Homo sapiens: one gene and its partners. The protein of the gene in region 2 interacts with the protein of the main gene of each other region in a pairwise test. Each region holds a gene or a part of one and is shown on either strand. Other genes may lie near its edges.

Evidence for each region.
Region 1: the proteins of USP2 (region 2) and KIFC3 interact in binary tests that used the Homo sapiens proteins (3 or more experiments, as listed by UniProt).
Region 3: the proteins of USP2 (region 2) and DDI1 interact in binary tests that used the Homo sapiens proteins (3 or more experiments, as listed by UniProt).
Region 4: the proteins of USP2 (region 2) and CRACR2B interact in binary tests that used the Homo sapiens proteins (3 or more experiments, as listed by UniProt).

What each region holds. Positions count from the first base shown.
Region 1 is NC_000016.10:57,771,484-57,778,516, reverse strand, and holds part of KIFC3 (kinesin-like protein KIFC3), read left to right. Parts: intron 1-1,262; exon of another isoform or gene 1,263-2,031; intron 2,032-3,438; exon of another isoform or gene 3,439-3,528; coding exon of another isoform or gene 3,529-3,537; intron 3,538-6,164; exon of another isoform or gene 6,165-6,228; coding exon 6,229-6,294; intron 6,295-6,830; coding exon 6,831-6,974; intron 6,975-7,033. UniProt on the Homo sapiens protein: Minus-end microtubule-dependent motor protein. Involved in apically targeted transport. Required for zonula adherens maintenance.
Region 2 is NC_000011.10:119,354,704-119,357,712, forward strand, and holds the end of USP2 (ubiquitin carboxyl-terminal hydrolase 2), read right to left. Parts: intron 2,888-3,009; coding exon 2,780-2,887; intron 2,605-2,779; coding exon 2,484-2,604; intron 2,220-2,483; coding exon 2,132-2,219; 3' UTR 512-2,131; downstream 1-511. UniProt on the Homo sapiens protein: Hydrolase that deubiquitinates polyubiquitinated target proteins such as MDM2, MDM4 and CCND1. Isoform 1 and isoform 4 possess both ubiquitin-specific peptidase and isopeptidase activities.
Region 3 is NC_000011.10:104,032,583-104,039,640, forward strand, and holds DDI1 (protein DDI1 homolog 1), read left to right. Parts: upstream 1-4,057; 5' UTR 4,058-4,240; coding exon 4,241-5,431; 3' UTR 5,432-6,614; downstream 6,615-7,058. UniProt on the Homo sapiens protein: Probable aspartic protease. Seems to act as a proteasomal shuttle which links the proteasome and replication fork proteins like RTF2. Required, with DDI2, for cellular survival following replication stress.
Region 4 is NC_000011.10:823,153-830,951, reverse strand, and holds the start of CRACR2B (EF-hand calcium-binding domain-containing protein 4A), read right to left. Parts: upstream 3,034-7,799; 5' UTR 2,345-3,033; coding exon 2,180-2,344; intron 2,101-2,179; coding exon 1,989-2,100; coding exon of another isoform or gene 1,769-1,988; intron 1,593-1,768; coding exon 1,412-1,592; intron 985-1,411; coding exon of another isoform or gene 967-984; coding exon 820-966; intron 703-819; coding exon 615-702; coding exon of another isoform or gene 332-614; coding exon 239-331; intron 87-238; coding exon 1-86. Other genes in the region: PNPLA2 (patatin-like phospholipase domain-containing protein 2), read right to left, coding at 6,090-6,429, 6,516-6,638, 6,822-6,954, 7,097-7,258, 7,365-7,425. UniProt on the Homo sapiens protein: Plays a role in store-operated Ca(2+) entry (SOCE).

The DNA of each region.
Region 1 (7,033 bases), on a different chromosome or scaffold from region 2:
ATTTTCCACGTGTTGCCTTTTCACTCTGTTGATAGTGTCCTTTGTTATACAAAAGTTTTTAATTTTGATAAAGTCTGACTTACCTATTTTTTCTTTTATTGCCTGTGCTTTTGGTGTTATATCCAAGAAGTCATTGCCAAATTTAATGTCATGACATTTTCTCCTCTATTTTCTTCTGAGAGTTTTATAGTTTTAGCTCTCACATTTAGGTCTTTGGGGTTTTTTGTTTTTTGTTTTGACACAAGATCTTGCTGTATTGCCCAGGCTGCAGTGTGGTGGTATAGTCATGGCTCACTGTGGCCTTGGCCTCCTGGGCTCAAGTGATCTGCCCGCCTCAGCCTCCCTAGTAGCTGGGACCACAGGCGTGTGCCACTGTGCCCAGCTAATTTTGGTTACTTGTTGTAGAGACAGGGTTTCCCTATGTTGCCCAGGCTGGTCTTGAACTCCTGGGCTCGAGCACTCCTCCTACCTTGGCCTCCCAAAGTGCTGGGATTACACCACGCCTGGCCCTCTTTGATCTATTTTGAGTTAATTTTTGTATATGGTATAAGGTAAGGATCCAACTCCATTCTTTTGCCTGTGGATATCCAGTTTTCTCAGCACCATTTGTTGAAAAGATTATCCTTTCCCACATTAAATGATCTTGGCAACCTTGTCAAAAATCATTTAACCATATATGCGAGGGTTTATTTCTGGACTCTGTATTCCATTCCATTGCTCTTTATGTCTGTTTTAATGTCAGTACCACACTGCTTTGATTGCTGTAGCTTTTTTTTTTTTAATTTTTTTTTTATTTGAGATGGAGTCTTGCTCTGCTGCCCAGGCGGGAGTGCAGTGGTGCAATCTCAGCTCACTGCGACCTCTGCCTCTCGGGTTCAAGCGATTCTCCTGCCTCAGCCTCCTGAGTAGCTGGGATTACAGGCGCCTGCCATGAGGCCCGGCTAATTTTTGTATTTTTAGTAGAGATGGGGTTTCGTCACGTTGGCCAGGGTGGCCTCAAACTTCTGACCTCAGGTGATCCGCCTGCCTCGGCCTCCCAAAGTGCTGGGATTACAGGCATGAGCCACCGCGCCTGGCCAATTGCTGTAGCTTTTTAGTGAGTTTTGAAATCAGGAAGTGTGAGACCTTCAGTCTTTCAAGACTGTTTTAGCTATGTGGTGTCCCTTGATATGGATTTTTCTATTTCTTTAGAAAATGTCATTGGGATTTTGTTAGGCATTGCATTGAATCTGTAGATCACTTTGGGTAGTACTGACACCTTATCAATATTAAATCTTCTAATCCATGAACATGGAATGTCTTTCCATTTATTGGTGTCATCTTTAATTTCTTTCACCAATATCTTGTAGTTTTTAGCATACAATATTTAACCTTTGTTAAGTTTATTCCTCGGTACTTTATTCTTTTTGATGCTATTGTAAATGGAATTATTTTCTTAATTTCCTTTTTGGATTGTTTATTGTTAGTTGTAGAAATGTAACCGATTTTTGTGTGTTCATTTTGTATCCTTCAACTTTGCTGAATTTATTAGTTCTAATTGCCCTGCTTTTAAAATCAAATTAATTCCAACATTCAAATCTTAATTAAATTCACATAAAACTCTAGACTTCCTTTTTGTCATAAAATATTGGAAGATGTGGCACCTCTGAGCTGACATTCCCACATGGCACCCACCGCTTGAGGTCTAGTGGCAGCTCCTGCCTTTGGTGGAGGTGACCATCCTTTAGCACGCTCCAGCCCCACCACCCTTTCTGTCTCTGCTTACCAACCTCATCCACAAGTTCTGCTCTGGCTGGCCCCTCATGCATTCAGCATTCTTCCTACAGGTACTTACTGAACACCTACTGTGTACCAGGCACTGTTCCAGGCACTGGGAGTACAGTGCTGAACACAACAGACAAAAATCCCTGCCTTCGCATATATCATCTCGTTTAATCCTCGAGACAGCTTCCATGAGGTAGCCTCATTATACAAATAAGGAAACTAAGAGACATAGAGAACTTAAGAGACTTGTCCAAGGTTACCCAGCAGGTAAGGGGATGTCTGGATTAGAACCTGGGCAGCCTGGCTTTAGAATTCGAATTGTCAGCTGCTATTACTGCCCATCAGTGGCGGAAGGACCCAGAGGTGAAGACTTGGCAACAGAGGCAGGGTGGCGTGGACAGGGGACAGATAGGCCTGGCCGGTGGTCATACAGCCAGGATCAGGCCTTCTGTGGGCTCCACAGGGTGTGCTCCCAGGGCCGCCCCGCTGGCCTCTGGGCTGAGTTTCCTTGAGGTTGTCTGGATCCCAGACCCTCTGGCCTTCCCAGCTCAGCAGCTTCAGCCTGGGAGAGCCCGCTTTTCCTCAGCAGACAGCTGATGATCGTTGACTGGGCTTGGTGGGAGGTAAGGAGGTAACCAGCAGGTTTTCTTTCTGTGATGGTAAGAGGCCGCCTTGGAAGCAGACAGCTGAGAAAACACAAAGACCTGGGCTGGCTGGCCCCACCCTTGGTCGAGCCGCTTCTGCCTGTGAAGTGTAAATGCAGGTGGTGTCAAGCCGGCAGACAGGCCCAGCTCCCTCTTCCCCTTGAGCAGGCAGGGTGACGCCCCCTGCAGCAGGCCCGTGATTCAGTTGCTCTGGCTGATGAGGAGCCTGGGCCCGGGAGGAGTGTCGCACAGCCCCAGCCTGGTCCGTCCTCAGCCCTGGATTGACGTCCATGCTGTCCTGGGACCGTTTCAGCCGCCTAGTGGGGAGTCTGCTTTCTCCTCCGTCCTGTGTCTTGGGCTCAGGCATGTGCCTGCTGCCCCTTTGTGGCCACAAGTATGTATCGGGCCCAGGGTGGCACTCGGGACCCTCCCCTGTTGGGCTTAGAGACATGGACGGCCCTTGCTGGCTGGAAGCTGCGGTGAGTGTGTGAAGGGCCCTCAGTCTTCCCTGAGGAAGGCCCTGCCTGCTCTTGGCTCTCACTGCTCCCAGGCCATCTTCCATCCGCTTTCCCCAGGTGCCTCCGTTTCTCTCTGACTTCTTGCCTGTTTTCCCTAACTCTGAGAGATTGCCTGCCTTCAAGTGCAGGAGAAAGCAGACATCTTCCCTACAAGCCCGAGACCTAGCCCCCAGTAGAGCTGGCCAACCACCTGCCACGGAGCAGGCCACTGGTGCCTTGGCCAGAGTGCTCGTGGTGCCAGTCTGCTGCGTCTCAGTCACATTCCCCCTGCTTTGCTGCCCTCAAGAAGCCAGAGATGACCTAGTGTCTGACACCTCTGAACAAAGGGGCCTTTAGAGCCCCTTCCTCAACTCCCTCACCATCCCCCATGCTCCCCAGCCTGCCCTGGTTGCGGTTGCGGCCACTTCCTTTTGGGTGCCCCTCTGAGATTCTGGACAGAGCCCAGGAGCCCCCAGGTTCCCATTGTGATGCAAGGACAGAACAGAACCCTGGGCCGCAGGCAGGTGGCTGGTGGGTATCCCGCCTCCCACCCCCAGCAAACACTGGCAAACCCCACTCTCCCTGCATCAGGGTCTGAGTGCCTGGCAGGGGCGGCAGTGGAGATGATCAAGGTTAGTGCGCCCAGCCCCATGCTGAGGCAGCAGCCTTTCTGGGGAGGGAGGGGGCGTGGAAGGAGACTTCAACCTTTTGAAGAGGAAGTCAGTTCACTTATGTCAGGGTAGGGAGAGTAGGAATTACGTATTCTTTGAGACTGAAAAATTACTGGCCGGGCGCAGGGGCTCACAACGGTAATCCCAGCACTTTGGGAGGCTGAGGCGGGAAGACTGCTTGAGGCCAGGAATTCAAGGCCAGCTTGGGCAAAATGGCAAGACCCTTCTATACATTAAAAAAAAAAAAAAAATTAGCCGGGCGTGATGGTATGTGCTTGTAGTCCCAGCTACTCGGGAGGCTGAGATGGGAGGATGGCTTGAGTCCAGGAGGTCTAGGCTGCAGTGAGCCTAGATCGAGGCACTGCACTCCAGCCTGGGTGACAGAGTGAGACCCTGTCTCAAAAAGAAAAAAAAAAATTACTGAAAAGCATAAAGATTTTGTCAACTATAATTCCACAGCCCAGAGACCCCCACTTTTTAGTGCTGTACACTTAATGGTTTTTCAGATGTTTCTTGGACTTAATATGTTGATGAGCCTTTCCCCATGACATTTAAAACTCCTGATAAACATGAATGTAATGATGACAGAATAGTCTATGTACTATATATACACATTGTAATTCACCTGCCCACTCCTCTAAGGGTGCTTATTCAGGGTATTCTCAATTTTAGGACGAAAGCAGAAAGGCTGCCTCATGCAAACTGTCCCTACTCCCACCCAGGGGCCAAAGGACTTGAGCCGTCCTCTCATCAGGCACTGAGCGGGCAGAGAAGTGGCACAAGCTCTGCCTCCCTGCCTGGCCCGTGGCCCAGCGTGTTGCTAGGAAGGAATGTGTTTGTGCAGGTGGCGGCAGAGCTGACCTCCAGGGGTCTGGCCCTTGGGTCACCTGCTTGTCCCCCAGGAGGCCTGGCTGGGCCCCCAGCCTTTCACCTGGGTCTTGCATCTTGGAATCCCCCTGCCCCACCAAGAGCAGGCAGTGCCAGCTCCCTGGCCTTTTCCTCAGAGGTGGGGGTGGATCCCTTGGTCCACTTCCTCCCTGACCACTCAGAGCTGGCCTAGCTGCTGTGAGTCAGCCGTTCTCTCCCACCCTGGGAGACAGGGACCTCCGAGGCCGAACACTACCTTGTTTGATGACACAGACTTGTTTGATGACATCTCAACCATGTAAAGTAGGGAGATTTTACACACACCCCCAAAATCCAAATGTCCGGCCTGTCTTAACTATGGCTGATGCATGCTGCTGAGTGCTAAGGGGGCGGACTCTAAGCCTCTATTTTTATTTTATTTTTTTTAGACAGCCTCGCTCTGTCACCCTGGGGTACAGTGATGCTATCATAGCTTACTGCAGCTTCAAACTCCTGGGCTCAGGTGATCTCCCACCTAACCCCCCGGATTACAGCTGGGATTATAAGCGTGCACTGGTGCACTCGGCTGAGTTTTGAAACTTTTTGTAGAGATGGGGTCTTGCTGTGTTGCTCAGGCTGGCCTAGGCCTCTCTTGAAAGATGAGAATTTTGGCGATGCTGGGTGTGCGTTCTCACCTCCTGTCGTCCGAGGAGAGTACGTGGTGGCCGCCTTCTTAAAGGGTTCTTGGGAGCCAAGCCCTGCACAGCCCCTCACCTGCCTTACCTGGCTGTCCCCTGTAATCAGTGGACGTTGTTGCCTATCATTTAGTAATGAGAACCCAGCTGTGTAAACCTCCTAAACCACCACACAGGAATCTGGCTCTTAGCGCACCTTTCCCGAGGTGGGGGTTGCTCACCACAGGACGTTCTGCAAGAAAAGTACTAAACATGCCCTGACGGAAGCTGGAGCCAAAGTCTGTGTCTGTGAATTGTTTCCTGAGAGAGGTTTCTGGGGGTGGGCTGATGTGAGACCAGGGTCTAGGGCCTTGGGAGGGGATGGGTGGCTGGAGGACAGCGCCGGGGAAGGGTTGCTCCCCTGGGATCTGCCCTCATGGGACTGGCACCATGATGGTGTCCCCTCTTCTGGGGTCCGGATAAGCTAGGTAACCGTGGCTTCCTCATGGGGTGCACACCCCCTTCCCCCTATAAGAGCCTTGGCTGCCACAGCTTTCCTGCAAGGCAGATTGGGAGCAGGGGTGGACACAGGTTCTGAGTGTGCCCTGACCACTGGCAGACCCATCTCCACAGGCTGACTTGCCAGAGACCACCCCAAGTGGAAAATTCTGGGGGCTGGGCCAGGGTGGATCTAGGGCTCGGAGGACCTGGAGTATGTACCATCTGGGGGCCCTTTTAAAGAGAGAGAACATAAAATTACATAGACACAGGCAGGTACAGGACTTTGGGAGGGGCTCGTGTAGTGAGGGGTCCTGAGGGTGGGCTGCCGTTGGGTGGGCCCAGGGGGCATCGGGGTGGCCTTGGTTGCACTTGCCCTCTGGGCTTTCCTGAAGAGCTGGGGTTGGCTCTGTCCTGTGGAGGGAGAGGGTGCGGGAGGCTGTCAGCACCAGCCCAGGTTTCTCTCACCTGAAGTCCCAGGTGTGATGGGATGCTTGAACATAGGGGAACCTAAGGCCACAGCCTTAGAAGAAGCCACAGCCACATCAGTCATCCCTGGTGCTGGGCAGGAGGCCTGGGTGTAGGCTGGAGCTGAGGACTGAGGCTCACCTTGCTCCTGACTCTGTGCCCACAGGTAGAACACCTGAAGGAGAAGCTCATTAGCCAGGCCCAGGAAGTGAGCCGACTGCGATCTGAGCTGGTGAGGCCACAAGGCTGTCCTGGGGTAGCGCAGGGCCTGGCCTGCCTTGTGCAGATGGGCCCTGCCAGGGGCAGGGGTGCGACCCTCTCTCTCCTGAGCCCGCATATCCCACCCTGTCTCAGAAACACACCGAGAGCCTTATCCCCACCTCCTAGTACCCTCAGAGGCCTTGTGGCTCCAGGGGGTGGGAGGTTCCTTCTCTGTTGCTGACATTAAACGGGAGTGTGAACCCTGGTATAAATATGTCTCTCCTTGTGACTTTCACACTCAGAATAGGGTGGGGGCAGCAGGGAGAGCAGGCTCTGGGTCACCACCCTTCTCAACTCTGCCCTCCACTGTCTTTCTCTTGGTTTCTCTCTTGAGCTTGTTCCCTCCTCTCTTGCCCTTGCCTTTTTCTTTTTCTTTTTCTCCTTCCCTCTGCCTTTCTCCACACCTCTCCTCTCTTCCCTGCCCTTGTGCCATCTCCGCGGGCCTCTCTTCTTTCCCCCGTCATCTGCCCTCGCCACATGCGCCCCCTCGGCCCTGGCTCTCTGCAGGGGGGCACCGACTTGGAGAAGCACCGGGACCTGCTGATGGTGGAGAATGAGCGACTGAGGCAGGAGATGCGGCGCTGTGAGGCCGAGCTGCAAGAGCTGCGCACAAAGCCAGCAGGTCCCTGCCCAGGTTGTGAGCACAGCCAGGTGAGCAGAATGGCCGTGGTCCCCATGCTGGTCCTGGAGGGCCACCCCAGCTCCTCACA
Region 2 (3,009 bases):
ACCTGAAAATGTTTCGGCAGACAGAATAAAGTACAGTTGACCTTTGAACAATGCGGGCTTGAACTGTGTGGGTCCACTTTCACGTGGATTTTTTCAACCAAATAAGGATAGAAAATACTGCATTTGTAAGATGCAAAACCCACATATATAGAAGGCTGATTTTCATATACGCAGGTTCTGCAGGGGTGACCTTGGGACTTGAATATGGTGCAGATTTTGGTATGTGTGTATCTTGGAACCAATCTCCCTGTGTATACTGGGGGATGGCTGTATATTTAAATGTGTTTGTAAACAATTGGTGAATCCAGATGAAGAATATAGTGTCCAAAATATGTATTGTTTCAGTTTTTAAAAAATTAAACTTAAATGTTCAAACTAAAAAGTGGGTAACTTTTTCCAGAAACTTGGAATTTACAAACTGGTTGAAACAATGAAATAGATGGCCCCTAATATACTAGGAGCCCTTCCTAGATTCAAACACTCCCAAATCAAGATTCCAACATCTGCCAACTGATTTCTCAAAGCTATTATTTATTCTGTACAAGGTTCCACTGTACATTAGACATTCTTCTACTCTTGCTTACACAGTAAACAAGTGTACACTTGCCCTTGGGCTCAGGTTCACAGGTCTTCTCTGGAGAAGGGTGTCAGGCCAGTAAAACTCAGGGTGTCTTTCTCTGATGCCTCCTCCTAGGAGCCTGGAATGTGCCAGGCTCCACGGGGCACAAGCCGGGCCCAGCTGTGTGGGTGAACAGCTTTACTCTCCAGGACAGCACAGAGTTTTATCCAACTATGTAGGGCAAAATTGAGCCCACAGGAAAGAACCATACAACTGAGGCAAGATGTCCCCAAATACCCAGGCTCCAGCTCCCAGGGCAGGACTGGAGACCAGCGCTAAGAAGAGCTGAGGGGTGGCCTGGGCATCCCTGAGAAACTCGGTCCAAAGGGCCTATTGTCTAGGAGGCTCTGAGAAGGGGGCGGGGGCAGGAAGGCCAGGGGGAAAGGGATGTTAAGAGAATAAATAAAAGGGAGAGAAGCTCTAGGGACGAGGGGCTTGTGCTATCCTTCAAACAGCTGGGGAGCAGACCAGGGGTGGGCTAGAGGACGTGGGCGGGAAGAACTTGATGCCCTGTCGGAAGGAATCTACCTGCTTTCTTCTTTGCCTCACTGCAATGCACAACGAGCCAGGGCTAAGGGCAGGATCCCTTTCCCAGGCGGGTTTGAACAGAGCACTGGGGAAAAGGGAAGAGGCTGAGGGATATTTCAGGAGGGGCAGTTACCCCCTGGTCCCCAAATGCTATAAGGCACAATTCTTGGAGGCAACTAAATTCCATTCAAAACATTAAAAAAAAAAAAAAAAAACCCAAACCCCCAAAACAGAAACTTGTTTTAGATCCCAGGTCTACTGTGGCTGTGCTTGGGGCCTGGCCAACGCCCACCTAGCACCACGGAGGGCTAGCATTAGAAAGTTGTACTTGGAAAAGCAATAAAAGGACCAGTGCAACGTCCCAGCTATGAAGAGGCCTGAAGGAGAGCACTCCAGTCTGAACACTTTAGTTATGGAAATTAAAAAAAAAAAGTTGGGCTTTTTAAAAACCAAAACCAGCGTTTTCCAAAGATGTCCCTTCGTCTGTCCCCTGGAGTTAGCAGCGTGAAGAGGGCTCTTGGCTCATGGCTCTGGACCGGCGAGCCGTGCGGGTGGAGATGGGCGCCGGCTCCTCCGCGGCGCGGGCGTCCAGGCGGTGATGCTCCCAGCGAGCTCCAGAGGGCGCTGTCCCCTCGGAGGCGCGGGCGCTGCGGCGGGAAGCGGCGCAGCGAGGGTCTTCCCCCCCAAGACACAGTTGTTTCTGACACATAGGAAGACCACAAGTTTACAAATGCAAACGCCGAGGGCACGGGGCGATGCTGGCTCCACGTCCAGGCGATCTTCCCTGCCGGGCCACAGCTCAGGAAAGCCCGGCTCCTTGCTCCAGACCCTGATCAGGCTGCATCCACTCCTGCTCGGCAGCTTCAGGTTTGTTTTTCTCTTGTCAGGTTTGTGTGTTGTTGTTGTTGTTTTGTTTTTGTCTTTTTAAAAAATTTAGGGAGCGGGGCCACCACGGGGAAGGGAGAAGGGACGTGGCTCCTGGCGCTACATTCGGGAGGGCGGGCTGGCCAGTTCGTAGAAGAGCAGGTAGGCGTCGCTGGTGCGCACTTGGCTGGAGGACATGGGAGTGACGCTGCGGAGAGAGCGGGGAGTCAGCCCGGAGCGGGCAGGACCGGGAGACCCCCCGCCGGCTTCTTTCTGTGCCCCCGAGGCCGGCCGGCCTGCCTTTCAGGGAGCCTCCCCACGGGCAGCGGCTTCGTGGCCTTAAACTTTGCCATCCATTCTCGGTGTAAGCCGTGCGGGGGGTGGGAGGGGGGTGGGTTTGGGGGGAGGGTGGAGGAGTGGGGGGAGAGTGGGTGGCTACAGCCAGGGGCTCCGGCCCTGCCCTGGCTCTCACCTGGAGTCGTTGAAAGTGTGCCATTCTCCTGTCCCTGGACTGCGACAGTAGGCTGTATAGTGGCCACCCATGGTGGTTCCGGAGTGATTGGACACAGCGTACAGGTTGTAAACAGCATGGTCTGAGGAGGAGGCAGCCGTCAAGCCCCCGAGGCCCCCCTGCCCCGACTTCCCCCCTCCAACCTCTCCTTCTGGGTCTCTCAGTAGCTGGTGCTGGCAGCTCCCCTTCCTCCTGCCCTCCCTCCGGCCTTGCACACCTGCGTCTTCATTCTGCCCTGCCTACTCAAAGATACTCACTGGTGTTTTCTGAGGCAAATTCTCTTAAGTCCAGGTCTCTTAGGGGGAAGTTCACAAATGTTGTGAGCTTGCTGGTTCGGATCCTGGATTCTGAGAACCGCTTCAGATCTGGCATTGACGTGAGTCAAGGATAGTCAAACCAATGCAGAAGGGCAGACAACAAAAGGAAAGCCTACAAGGTCCGTTTCTTCCGACTGTTCCCCTCACCTATGGGCCCCTTGTCATCAGTC
Region 3 (7,058 bases), about 15 Mb from region 2:
AGCAAGAGATAGTAGTTTAAACATCAACTGACTATCATAACTGAAACCATCAGTTATGTGGATTTTTTTCTTTTTTTTTTTTGCTACATTTTTAGAAAGAGGCAAATTACAAAAGGTATTGTGGATTTATTAAAAAAATAACTTTGGGGTTATTTACTTGGTTAGTATGAAATCAGTACCATCTCTTCTGTTTTCTGGGCATTTAGGCCATACAATTAGAATTGATTTCTGAGTGATAGCCTGGAGACTCTGCAGGAATCTCACTTATCAAAAAAAATTTAATTATATTCTTATATTGTACTTACTAAGGGAGAAAAGTAAGGGAGTATACTTCACAAAGAATTCCTCAAGAAAAGTTTTGATAACCTCAGTTACTTAGATTTACATACCTCAATAATTCAGATAACCCATTTCTCAACAGACTACATGATAGGGATTTACGGTATAACAACAGTTTATGTTTAGGGGTGTGTGTGTGTGTGTGTGTGTGTGTAATATATTTTATATATATATATATTTCCAATTACCTCCAAGTTCATTATACAGTCAGAAGAGGTTTTCATTTAAAATTCTGAGTTGGGACAATTATACATATGGTATTTGAATCACAAATCATGCTGGGTAAAATGAAAGAATCAAATGATGTATACACAGAAGTACTAAACACAGGAGGCTGTGTTTACCTTTACAGATTCCAGGCTGTTTTGCAACAGATATAAGGGGTGGATGGGTGGCTGGACTATGGAATCCAAGGGATCCCTGCCAACCCTGACATCCTGTGACCAATGAAATGATGACAGCTCATTGGCCAGACCTTGAGGCTTTTTGCTTTCCAGTGTCTGTTCTCAGTAAAAGGTAAAATGCTGAAAAACAAATAAATGTAAAGTGCCACCCAAAGTAAAAAAATTACAGTGAGATAATAAAACACATCACATAGAATTTAAATATGTTCAGTATGAAGGCAATGGTATAGAAAAAAAGATGTTAGTTTCTTTTCATGTGAACTCACAATTTTTGCTTTATGAAAAACAAAAGGAAGCTTATTCTACAAAAATAATTTCATTTGCTATTAAAAAAAACAAAAGCCCCAGTATAATCCTCCTCGCTATGGTTTTAAGAACAAATTGTACAAAGCTATTTGGGGAAAAAAGATAAAGGAAAACTGAATTAAAGTCTTACTGGTTTCTCAATCTGTTCTTTAGCAGAGTAGTTTGCATGTGACATCTCACATGATAATTGTTTCCAAACTCAGGGGAAAGCACTAGTAATCTCTGATAAACTTGTCAGGGTGCAAAGAACCATAACATAATATTATTGAGTCAAAGGGTCATTCATTCATCTGTAAAAATGGTGAAAATTACAATGCTAGATTTTTTTTCTTAAAATTAAAAAATAATCCTTATATGATGAAACACTGTCTTTCCAGTTGAAAGCTCTAAGTCAGGTCATCTTCCTTCTCACCTTTGTGTCTCCACTCTGGCGCACCCTGCATGGCTGACTCCTTGTCATCTTTCTAAACCCAGTTCTTTCAGGATGTCTTCTCTCCCCAACATCCCTCACCATCTTCTTCATCTCTTCTTCAGATATTATTAATTTCTCCTGAATACCACTACTGTGGTATTTTTTACCCTTCAATTTGTGTGTGTGCATGTGCTCTAATTTAGACTGTGAGCTCCTTTAAGAATACAGCCTATATTTAACATTATTCACGTCTGTTTCCCTAGAACTTAGCACATGCTTCACATACACTGGGCGTTCAGTCAACATTTCTAATATAAGCAAATATGAGTATAGAAACATTATGATAATTAGAGCAGTGAGCGAGACATAGTCTTCCATCTGAGACAAATACATGAGAAACAGGAGCCAAAAAATAATTATTTAGGCTGATGTGACTTCCTTCTCTCCATAATGGAATAATGGTGTAACAGTGCAGGCCTTCTAACAACCCTTCAAAGAAGGGGGTGAAACTAGGCAGAGGATATCGACTATCTTGGTTCATAAGTAGGTACACCTGGGAGTACCAAGCCAGGGAAACATGAGCTCTGCACAGTGCAAAACACTTTTTTTTTTTTTTTGAGATGGAGTCTCGCTCTGTCACCCAGGCTGGAGTGCACTGGCGCAATCTCGGCTTACTGCAAGCTCCACCTCCAAGGTTCATGCCATTCTCCTGCCTCAGCCTCCCGAGTAGCTGGGACTACAGGCGCCCACCACAACGCCTGGCTAATTTTTTGTATTTTTAGTAGAGACAGGGTTTCACCATGTTAGCCAGGATGGTCTCGATCTCCTGACCTCTTGATCCGCCCACCCTGGCCTCCCAAACTGCTGGGATTACAGGCATGAGCCACCGCGCCAGGCAGCAAAACACTTTATTAAACATAGAGAAAAATAACTGGCATGCAAGGATTTCTACCCAATCATCATTTGCCTTGAAGGACTTTTCACCATGACAGCCTTGTATGTGTGTGTGTGTAAGTGGGGGTGGGGGAGAGTAGGGAGAAGGTGGCTGTGCCCAAATGTCAGAGAGAGGCATATTGGCCTCTAGGGTGGCATCCTTAATGAATTTTCCTACAGAACTGATGTCAAATGGGTCACCTCAAAGGTTCATCTCACTCATTCATTCATTCCCCTTCAAGGCAATGGCCCATCTACCCTATATCCCATTTTAGAGACCCTCTGTGTTATCCACACATTCCACTTTTTTACACTCCCCACCTCCAAGGGGTATGCACACTCTGTCCATTTTACTCAAGAAACATGTTTATTCTCTACTGCTTTGGCTTTGGGCCTCCTGACTTTCCACACTCTAGCAACAGCTCCCTCTTTGAACCACTGGAAAAGCCTCCTGACTGGCCCTCCTGCCACATTATGTCCTCCATGTGTTGCAAGAAGCCTCTTCCTTAAGTCAATTTAAAAAAAAAAATCACAAACACCTGCTTCAAATCTTTTCCCTTTCCTTTCCTTCCTTACTTCTTTTTCTTTTTTTTTTTTTTTTTTTTTGGAGGAGGAATTCTTGCTAATTGATAATATTTAATATTTAAACTCCGTAGATTCACATATGACTTCATCAATTGGCTCAACTAATTTTTTTCCAGCTTCATATCCTGGTATTCAAAGTCATGTACAATTTTTTTATTGCACAAAATGTCTCATCTTTCTCTAGAAATAACAGCCCTTGCCATAAATTCCTGCTTTTGTAACATGAAACTGCTTTCCTTTGGAGTGAGACCACTTTGCACCTGGAAGATGCTCATCCTTCAACATCCAGCTTGTCTCCTCCTTAGGAAAATATCCTCTGTTCTGTTGGTGATACTAAAGGCAGTACCCTGAACATGTCTTTGTAAAAGATTTTGCCTTTAGTATTGTGATTACCCATTCACCTGTCTATCCCTTTCCAGAAATGTGAGCTCCTCAAGGGCAGGCTCCAAATCTGACTTTCCTACTATGCACATAGAATGGTACTTGCCATGTAAGAAACAAATCCTTACTGTTTGGGGAAAAAACAAAAGTACAAAGAATACAACTCTAAAATGAACAAAACAAATGATAATATGCTGTTTAGAAAGTGTTGAAAAACTAGGCATGGTGGCTCACACCTGTAATTCCAGCACTTTGGGAGGCCGAAGTGTGGGGGATTGCTTGAGCCCAGGAGTTGGAGGCCAGCCCGGACAACACAGTGAGACCCCAAATCTATTAAAAAAAAATACAACAATTAGCCGGGCATGGTAGACTGTGCCTGTAGTTCCAGCTTTTCAGGAGGCTGAGAGAGGAGGACTGCTTGAGCCTACGAGGTCGAGGCTACAGTGAGCTGTGATTATGCCACTGTACTCCAGCCTGGGTGACAGGATAAGATCCTGTCTCAAAAAAAAATGTGTTGAAATCATTTCTTTCATATCATGTGTTAAATAGGCTTTGAAGGGCTGGCCTTGAAACCTGACAGCTTTGAGCCATCGTGTATCCATGGGAGTAGGCATTCTAGGTTCCAAACAGCACACTTAGAAATGGACTTTGGAACACAACGTGCTACCTCAAGGCTCCACCTGGCCACACAGCAGGCACTGAGGCTGGGAGACAGCCCCCAGACAGATGAGTGTCCGCGCCTCTCTGAGAGGTGAATGAGCCCGGACGGTCCCTACCTACCAAGTCCTGAGGAGCAGCGGCACCAACGACGCAGGCCCGCCCCAGCCCGCCAGTGAGCCGCCCATGCCCTCTGCTAGCCCGGCCCGCCCGGGCCCCCGCCATGCTGATCACCGTGTACTGCGTGCGGAGGGACCTCTCCGAGGTCACCTTCTCTCTCCAGGTCAGCCCCGACTTTGAGCTCCGAAACTTCAAGGTCCTCTGCGAAGCGGAGTCCAGAGTCCCCGTCGAAGAGATCCAGATCATCCACATGGAGCGACTCCTCATCGAGGACCACTGTTCCCTGGGCTCCTACGGCCTCAAAGATGGCGATATCGTGGTTTTACTGCAGAAGGACAATGTGGGACCTCGGGCTCCAGGGCGTGCCCCGAACCAGCCTCGTGTAGACTTCAGTGGCATTGCGGTGCCTGGGACGTCCAGCTCCCGTCCACAGCACCCTGGACAGCAGCAGCAGCGCACACCCGCTGCCCAGCGGTCACAGGGCTTGGCGTCAGGAGAGAAGGTGGCCGGCCTGCAAGGTCTGGGCAGCCCCGCCCTGATCCGCAGCATGCTGCTCTCCAACCCCCACGATCTGTCCCTGCTCAAGGAACGCAACCCTCCCTTGGCGGAAGCCCTGCTCAGCGGAAGCCTTGAGACCTTTTCTCAGGTGCTGATGGAGCAGCAAAGGGAAAAGGCCTTGAGAGAGCAAGAGAGGCTTCGTCTCTACACAGCCGACCCACTGGATCGGGAAGCTCAGGCCAAAATAGAAGAGGAAATCCGGCAGCAAAACATTGAAGAAAACATGAATATAGCGATAGAAGAGGCCCCCGAGAGTTTTGGACAAGTGACGATGCTCTACATTAACTGCAAAGTGAATGGGCATCCTTTGAAGGCTTTTGTTGACTCGGGCGCCCAGATGACCATTATGAGCCAGGCTTGTGCCGAGCGATGTAACATCATGAGGCTGGTGGACCGACGGTGGGCTGGGGTTGCTAAAGGAGTGGGCACACAGAGAATTATTGGCCGTGTTCATCTAGCTCAGATTCAAATTGAAGGTGATTTCTTACAGTGCTCTTTCTCCATACTTGAGGATCAACCCATGGATATGCTTCTAGGCCTAGATATGCTCCGGAGACATCAATGTTCCATCGATTTGAAGAAAAATGTGCTGGTCATCGGCACCACTGGCACGCAGACTTATTTTCTTCCTGAGGGAGAGTTGCCCTTATGCTCTAGGATGGTAAGTGGGCAAGATGAGTCTTCGGACAAGGAAATTACACATTCAGTCATGGATTCAGGACGAAAAGAGCATTAAAGCACGTTATAAATATGTTACCACCTTGAGGGAGCCTCAGGTCCCCGGCAATTATAAGTTAAGAGCTTACTGGCAATGTAATCATTAAAAAACATCAGTAACAACTAAACCTGGCCTTGGGACTACGTTCTCAGATGGGTAACTAACGTCAATCCTGATTCCTTGGTCTTGGTCCCTCTTCCATTTCCCTTGTCCAGAGATCACTGAAAGGCATCCTGGGAAGGCTCTGGAGGCTCCAGCTGATTTCCAGATAATCCATGAAAAAGAAAACCAGCTTCTTCCTTTAGAGACACTATCCTATCAGATTACAGGTGGCTTATCCAAATCATTGCTATTTTGCAGAATTCCCTGGAAAAATGCTATGGCTGCAGACCTTACAAGGCATCCACATAAAACTATTTCACATCAGCACTAATAATTCTTTCTACTGAGAGAAATATGCCCATTTTCACAGGTTTTGTTTTCTTTGGGAAGGGTATTAGAAATGGTAGGTCAGTTACACTATGATGTTAACTAATACTTATACATGTCTGTTTGGGGCAGCATAAAGACCAATTTCCTCATATTTACACCTTCCCTTCCCCTGGATCCCCTGCAGTCACCCTGCAATCCACAGCTAAAGACTATTTTTGCCATATTTGAGAAAGTGGATTTATCTCCAAGGATGCTACATTAATTTTCTATTTCTCCTGCATTCAAAGAAACTCTGGCTATAAAACAAAGGCAATAAATTAGATTTTTTAAAAAAGAAATTATGGTACTTCTTGGGAGTCAAGTTGTACAGTGGTGGGAATGAGAGGTGGGGACAGGCAGTGGTCCAGGTTCTCTAATAGTCATTGCAACTAGATCATCTCTCTCTCTTTTTCAAAGTAAAAATCTGCTTTATACATTAAGCTGCTGCTACATCAGTATTGTTTGAACAAAGGTTTTCACTGTTAAAATAACATTTGAAAACTTTTGAATGAGAAGATCTCTAAGGCCTCATTCAGAATTATCCATTCTGACAATGTTAGTGTTTATTACAACTGACAGTGGGTAATGGAAGATCCTAGACTTAATTACAACCCATGGCTAAAGCACCTGAGAGAAAAGTTTCAGCTTCCTGAGGCCATCAGATGCAGGGGAAATGTTTCAGGACAATAATTTATCAAAACTAGTATTAAAACAGCGGATTCAAAATCAAGATGTGTATGTTTTGATTACACTTAATTACTTAGACAAATTAGTTCACCTACTTTACAACTGAGATTCCTCACCTAATAATTTTTTTTTTCCTGGGAGGGGTCACTTTTCAAGCACTAAAACCTCATTATCTTAAAGGATCTGGGATATCCTTTAAGTTATTCTATTTTCCCGACAAGATATAAAGCCACATAAAGCATTCCCAAAGGATACAGAAAAAAATAACTCTCCCTTATAATCTCCATATACTTTTTGTTTTGCTTCTTGGTAATACTAATCAACCTTTCTAAAGAGAGTCACCTCTTCCTTTCTAGCCACCATCAGTTCACCTCCCATTTTTCTTCTCTATAGGTGTTCCCATGCTCACATTTCCCAGTCTGGTCTACATTTGCACAAAGTTTTATACCCAGTAGAACTACTAAAAATGATCAAATGAACAGATTTC
Region 4 (7,799 bases), about 120 Mb from region 2:
AGCGCCTCGTGCGCCCGCCACAGCTGGGAGTTCTGGGCCTGTGCCTCCAGGTGCTCCGCAGCCTGGGCGTGCAGCTGCTGCTCTAACTGGAGGGTGGAAGGATGGAGACCGGCGAGGAACGCCCCCTCTTCCCCGGGGTGCTGCGCGTGCCCCAGGCTCCCGACAACCCGGGGACGCTAAGGCACAGGGGGAGAGTGCACGGGTGACCGTGGGGACAGGGCAGGGGCCGGGTGCTCACCTCCCGCTGCCGCAGGCCCGCGCGTTCCAGGTCCTGCTCGCGGCTCTGCAGCTCCAGCTCCAGACGGCTTCTCCGCTCCCCGCGGGCGAAGTTCTGGGACGCACGGAGGACCACTGAGCCTCCGCCGGCCGCTCGGCCATGCAAAAGAGGTACACGGAGGGCCAGGGGCTGGGAGTGGGCCCGGGCGGAGCGGGGTCGGGTGGAGAAGACCGGACGGGGGTGATACGTGAGGCCCAGTGGGATCTCCTCGGGCTGAGGGCAGCCTGGACCCGCGGAGGTGGGGCCGTCGGGGAGGGATTAATTCAGAGAAGGCGGAGCCAGGGAGGCCAGCGAGGTGGGATTGGGCCTGGCGGGAGGGGCGGGGCCCGAGGCCCACCTGACTCGGCGGGCGCCGGCTCTGCTCCCGAAGCTGCTCCGTCTCCTCGTACAGAGCGCGCACCTCCCTCTCGTGCTCGCTCTCGCGCCTTCGGGGGACCGGGCGACCCCGGATGAGAACTTGCCAGCGCTACAGCCCCCTGGCACCGCCTCTGCTGCTGCCCTGAGGCCCTCCATTGGCCCCCATACCCCACCCCGGCCCTCACCTCCGCAGCGCCTGCTCCAGGCCGTCGCGCTCCCGGGCCGCCTCCTCCAGGCAGGCCGACGCGCGTATCAGAACATCCTCGAAAGAGCCCAGCAGCTCGGGGCGCTCGCGCTGCAGCCTGGCCCAGAGCGTCCTCACAGCCCGCTGCCTGGAGGGCGGGCGGGAACTGAGGCTGGAGCTGGCAGAAGCGGGAAGCAGGCTTCCCTCCGCCAGCAGCAAACCCTTAGGAGACTTCTTCGCCCCTGGGCAGGACAGGAGCACTTGCTGCGTGCAGGGCATCCCTCCCGTGAGCGCTTTCGCCCCTGCCCGGCGTGCGTGGTCGGTGAGGTGTGTGTACCCTGGGCAGTGCCGGTATGTGGCCCCGCGCCCGGCGCTGCCCCTCCTCCCTGCAGCCCTGGCTGCTGCCTCATGAAATGCAAATTCTGCGGGAAATCATGCCGGGTCCCTCCCAGGGAATCGCAGCTGACGCTAGGCTGGGCCTGACCCGGCCTAGAGACCCTGTGCAGAACCAGCACTCGGGTGACAAGGGCAGACAGCATGCAGGCAGAGAAACAGCAGAGCGGGCAGTGGGAGCGGGGCCAGCGCCGACTCACTTGCCCAGGACCGGGGCCACCCCCAGCTGCTCCAGCACAGTGTGGAATCGCTCCTCCTCTTCCTCCTCCTCATCCAGAGAGCCCGCCGTGCCCTGCACGTCGAGCCCGCCCGACTCAAAGGTCTCCTCGGGAGTCCTGCAGGGGTTCGCTCCCTGGGCTGACGCCACCCCCACAAACATCCCTGCGGGCATGGAGCGAGCGATTACCAGGGCTGTGGGTCGCCACCGTGGCTGTGTCCCCGTTCACCCTCCCAACGAGTATCCTGCCCTCTCTCAGGGCCCAGTTTCCTGTTTTCCTTCCTTATTCTGGTCCTATTGGCCTGGAAACAAGAGGTGACAGGCCAGCTCCCAGCCCTACCGGAGCTTAGCACAGGAGAGGAGCTGGGGGCCAGGAAGGTCAGCTCCACACACTCCACCGCAGCTAGGAGCCCCCAGGCGCGAGTGCGTGCAGACAAAGCACGGGCCCTGGAGGGAGGAGGACGAGAGGCACCGGCAGCCCTCAGGGCGCCACAAGTGCCAGGCCTCCTGATCAGGCCTCCAGCTCTGGGCAGTGGGGGATAGGCAGGCCACAGGCTCACCCAGGCCCAGGCAGAACTCCCTGGCGGTGAGGAAGCCAGTGTGAGCCCGGTCCAGACTTTCAAACACAGCCTCCAGCTGCTCTGGCGTGAGGGGCAGGTCGCTCTGGAGACCCTGGTCGGGGAAGGAGAGCAGAGATGAGCCGCTGCGGTCAACCCAGGGCCGAAGCAGTCTCTTGGGGTGGGGGACTCACCTGCAGGTCGTGCTTGGTGATGAAGCCCTTAGCCTCCTTGTCACACAGCAGAAACAGCTCCTCAGCCTGCTCCAGTATTGCAGCCCGCGGCCCTGCAGAGCCCCCCTCGAGTTCCCCCTCCTCCTCCTGGGCCTCATCAGCCCCAGGCTTTCCAGGGCTGGCCATGAGAGCAGGGGGCCTCAGCCTGGCCTTCAGGTGCTGTGAAGCCAAGGGAGGGTCAGAAGAAATTCAGGAGGGGAGCGGATGGGGTGCAAGTGTGTCTGAAGGCTCAGCCGAGGGCCCTCCCTGCAGCAGGTGGGAAGGTGGGCGGAAGGCAAGGTGGGACCAGGGGGCTGGGGGTGGAAAATGCTGCAGGCTTGGGGTGTCACTGGGGTGGTTGATGTAGGCTCAGGGCCTGTGGGTACTGCCCCAGTGGGTCTGGCATCTCAGGAGGCTGGAACCCAGGAGGGGCTGCCAACTTCAGGAGAGGAGGAGCTGGAGGTGATGGCAATCTCAGGGGCCAGTGGAGAAGACCTGGTGATAAGGAAGGTGGGGTCCTGAAAGCTGAGAGGAGCAGGCTTGGGGTCAGTGAGGGAGGAGCCCCTCACACTCTGCAACTGGAGATCTGATCCCAAGTGAGGGCTCAGCCAGTCCTGACCAAGTCCTTAGCCCCTGGCCTGGGCCTGTGTGGCCCAGCCTCATGACAGCTGGCAGGCAGGGCAGACTTCTCCCTCCTGCCCACCGGCCCCTCCCTCCCCACAACTGAGCCCACAGAGTGCAGGGGCAAGGTCCCAGCCTGCAGAGCCCTTCGCCTCTGACGCCCCACTCAGGAACACTTCCAGATTCGAGACCTAACACCCTTGCCCCACAACACTGAGGCCCTTCCCCGTTTCAGAACTCCCTGGGGCCTCCCTTCCCACCTCCTTGCAGGGACGCCCCGCCCCCTAACCAGAGCCACCTGTCCTTCACACAATGTCCTGATCCCGGATTTCCCAAAGCTGCTCCCCACCAACACCCGCCTTCCCCCACCGGGGAGCTGGGATCCTCTCCCCTCACTCTCCACCCAGCGTCCTTCCATGTTCCTTAGCCCGGGCGACCTCCAAAGAGGGCAAGTCTGGGCGGGTGAGAGAAGGGGACACGAGAGGCCAGGGCCATTGCCTCCAGGCCACGTTGTTGTCTCGCCCGCCCTCCGGCTTGCCGGCTAGACCTGAGGTCCACCCCAGCCGGAAGCCGCGCGGCAGCAGGGCCCCAGGGAGGTGGGAGGATGGGCTGGTGGGGTGGGGCGGCCAGCCTCCTGTGCTCCCCGAAACTCTGGGGGACAACCCCGCCCTTACCCCTGCCGCCTTGCGCCCCGAGGGGGTAACCGGAGTTCCCGACCGAGACGCTCAGGTTTGGCGCGGGCCACGGCGGCCCGGAGGGGGTGCCGGGCGGGCGGCAGTGGAGGGGCCTCAGCGGCGGGACCAGCGGTCGCCTACCCGCGAGTTGCGCCGCCGCACCTGCCGCGCGCCCGGGCCGCTCCTCCCGGAAACACTGGGCGCGCCCCGCCCCAGCTGGGACCCGGACGGGACGTAGAGGGCACTGGGCCCCGAGCGACCCCTGCCGCTTCGCAGGCACCGAGACCCCCGCTTGGGCCGGCCCCGGGAGGAGCCACTCTGCGCCGCTGTCGCCTGTCCCCGCCTCTCTGCGCTGCCCCGGCGGCCCGATCCCTGGAGGCTCGAGCGAGCAGTGAAGCAACGATATGCCCCAGAGACCCAGGGACCCCCCGGAGCAGGGACAAGGCTGCGGGGGGCGGGCGCAGACACCAGCGCCTGGGAGGGGCCCCTCCTGTCCGGGGGGAGCCCGACTTAAGGCGCCAAAAAGTGTGTGTAGGAAAAAGCCGGGCAGGAAACAGACCAAATACTTTCAGCGGTTATCTCTAGGGGTGGGGAGCCTTTACTTTCTTCTCTATACTTTCCCGGTTTTTAAACAATAAACATGTAGGCCGGGCGCCTGTAATCCCAGCACTTTGGGGGGCTGAGACAGGGGCAGATCACCTGAGGTCAGGAGTTCGAGACCAGCCTGCCCAACATGGCGAAACCCCGTCTCTACTAAAAATACAAAAAATTAGCCAGGTGTGGTGGTGGGCGCCTGTAATCCCAGCACTTTGGGAGGCTGAGCCAGGAGAATCACTTGAACTCGGGAGGCAGAGTTTGCAGTGAGCCGAGATTGTGCCATTGCACTGGGCAACAAGAACGAAACTCCATCTCAAAACAAAACAATGAACGTGTAATGCTAGAAAATGTTTAACTTAGCAGTATTCAGTGTATATGTATGGGTGAACGAGCTGGGGACTCAGGCAGGTCCCACCTCAGTAGCCCCTCCTGGCTCTCCTTCTGGGGCCCAGCCCTGACTGGGGCTCCCCTTGGGGGAGGATTGGAAGGAGGAGCTGCTTGAGGCCCGAGTGAAACCCTCCTGTGGGGGGAGAAAATTCCACCCCAGACCGAGGAGCCCTCCCCAGCCCCAGCCCCAGCCTGGCCCCTGCACCCACCTGAAGGGCTGGAATCACTGTCCCGCCCGGCAACCCTGGGGGGTACAAGGCCTCTGCTTTTCAAGGAAGGGGCCTGGGATCCAGCGTGCGACCCAGCTGAACCACAAAAGGCTGGGCTTATAGGACAGGACCTTGAGACCAAGGGGGGTGGCCTCTGGCACAGGCACATCAGGGACCTGCCTGGCCGGCTCGCCCAGTCCCAGATCCCAGAACCAACCGTTATTGTTGGCAGGGGGCTGCCACCACAGCCACCCCACGCCTTCTGGGAGGAGCAGGTGGGGGCTGGCTCCAGCACCCTCAGGCCATGGGGCCTTTTTGGTTGCCAAGGAGGGCTGGCCTTCTCCCCTCATGGCCTCCCTGCCATGAAGAGGATGCCCTCAGGAAACCACTTCCCCAGCACAGGGCTGAGTCCCCTTCAGCTAGGACCTCACCTGCCTCCATATCCCAGCCCTGCCCTGTGTACTGGCAGGAGGCTGGGCAGGGGAACAAGAAGGTATGTGCACCAGGCCAGAGAGGCTTGTGAGGGTGGGGGGACAGAGAACTTTGGGCCAAACGCCCAAGTGGAGCAGGGGCCCAGCTTTCCCAGGTCCCCTGTGCTTGGTTTCAGGAACCTCAGCCCCCACAGCTGGCCAAGCCCCAAAACAGTCACACACCCCACTGTGTCACCGTGTGAGGGGAGGGGCAGGCGACACCTTTTGCAAACATTTTCGTTTTTATTTACCAAGAATCTTGGTCCCAAATATTTCCATTGGCCCTCAGAAGGCTGTGGCCAAGGGTCAGCCAGGAGGCTGCTGGGCAAAATTGGGGGGGGTGTGGATGCATCCTAGACAGGGGGGTCGGCAGGAATGCAGTACGTTCATATGTGCCTGTAGGGGGGTGTTCCCAGGCCAGCCTGGCAGGTTCCAAATGCCAGGCCCAGGAGTGCGACGCTGGGAGACCTGGCCTGCAGCTGTGGAGAGGCTGGTCAGCCAAGGTAGGGCCAGACCCTGGCCACCAGGCTCTCACTGCAAGTAAGCAGGCGGTCACATACACACAAAGTGGGCAGAGGCTGGGCTGCAGCATTTATTACATGTGCTTTGGCGAAAATAAATAATTCTTCACACACATATTTCAGCAGGCCATGAAAAACGGGGAGGGAAGGGCAGCTGCAAAGTTCTCAGGAGTAAAGGGGCGGGGGAGGTGCTCGGGCAGCACAGGGGAGGGAAGATTAAGGCACAGGTGCGCGGGGCCTCAGCGGCCCAGGGGAGGGGTGTGGAAACCTCCCCTCTCAGTGCATGCAGCTGGTGAGTGGCTGGCGAGGGGGCCCACGGCAAAGACCCCTCTTGGCAACTGTGAGTCCCCTCATCTCACTGCGCAGTGGTAATGGAGGCGTCTCAGGCAGGGTTCCTCGAGAGGGTCGGGGTCTCACAGCCCCAGGGCCCCGATCACGGGCCGGGCCTCGGGAGCAGGGGTGCTCAGCAAGGGGGCAGGCCCGGCCAGCTGGTGCTGCGGGGATGCTGGGTCCGCGGGGGCGGGAGCCGGGTCGGCGGGTGCGCGCATGCGCAGAGCTTCGGGCGGGAAGGCCACGTTGGTGCAGAAGAGGCCGAGCAGCAGCTGGCGCTGGCACTCCTCCCACTTGGCCAGCGCGTCCCCCAGCGAGAGGTTGTTGCGCATCCAGCCGGGCAGTGCCTCTCTGTAGGCGGCGCAGGACAGCGGCACGGACGGCAGCGACTGGACGCGGCGCAGCTCCACCTGCTCCGGCAGCCTGCGGGGCAGGGATGCGGCAGGGAGGGCTTCAGCTCCCGGCGCTAGCACCGCGGGCCCCGGGTGGACGCGCGGTCGGCGGCTCACCTGGAGGGCAGGTGCCTGCCCAGCTTCCTCTTGGCGCGCATCACCAGGTACTGGCAGATGCTGCCCGTCTGCTCCTTCATCCACCGGATGTCCTCGGGAACGTCGGGCAGCCACTCCAGCAAGCTGGGGACAGGGCGAGCGGCGCGTTCAGGGACTTGGCCAGACCCACATGCCCACCCGCCGGGCCCTGTCTGTGCCCTGACTTGGCACTGCTCACCCCACCCCACCTTCCCTGGTAACCATCACTCGCGGATGATCCCAAAGTCCGTCCCCTGGGCCCCTCTCCCGACCCCCCAGCCCTCACACCGGATGGTGAAGGACAGAGCGCTCTCCAGCGGCAGCGTGTAGGGCACCATCATGGCCGTGGCCAGACGCACAGGCAGCATGTTGGAGAGGGTGGTCAGCAGGTCCGTGGGCTCCACGCAGGCCTCCAGCAGGGCTGCGGGTGGGCGGGAGGTCGGCGGCCAGTGGAGGCAGCGGGGCCCAGGACCCGCTCGGCTTCCCTCCCCTGCTCACCGTCCTCTCCTCTCTCTCTTTCCCTCCTGCCTCCCCTCCTCCCCTCCCGTCCCCCAGGTGCGCACCCTCATTGAGCCGGGCGGGCAGGTGCTCCAGGATGTGATCTTCTCCGGGCAGCTGCGAGTAATCCTCCGCTTGGGCGCTCTCCACTGCCTGGTCCTTGTCCTCTGGGCCGTGGGGGCGGGCGGGGGGCAACGCCAGCAAGGGGTTGGGCCGGTTCAGGAGGCCTGGGGTTGGGGAGAGAAGGGATTCTCAGTTCATCAGCGCGGCCGCGGCCCGCAGGGGGTAGCAGAGCCGAGCCCACCCCGCCCTCTCCCGCCCGGGTCCGCGCACCGTTCCGCTGCAGAAAGCGCAGGCCATCCCGGTATCCCTGCTTGCACATCTCTCGCAGCACCTGCAGTGAGGAGGGTTAAATGGAGCGGAGGGAGCCAGGGATGCCCGTTCTGCCCCTGGAATCCCTGGCACCCCCAACAGCCACCTCCCTTCACTACCCGCAGCTCCCAACCCCAAAACCTATCCTAGATCCAGAACAAGATCAAAGCTGTACAGGGAGGTTGGACAGAAAGCCGGGCGCAGTGGCTTACACCTGTAACCCCAGCACTTTGGGAGGCTGAGGCAGGCGGATGACGAGGTCAGGAGATCAAGACCATCCTGGCTAACACGGTGAAACCCCGTCTCTACTAAAAATACAAAAAATTAGCCAGGCGTGGTGGTGGGCACCTGTAGTCCCAGCTACTGGGGAGGCTGAGGCAGGAGAATGGCAGGAAC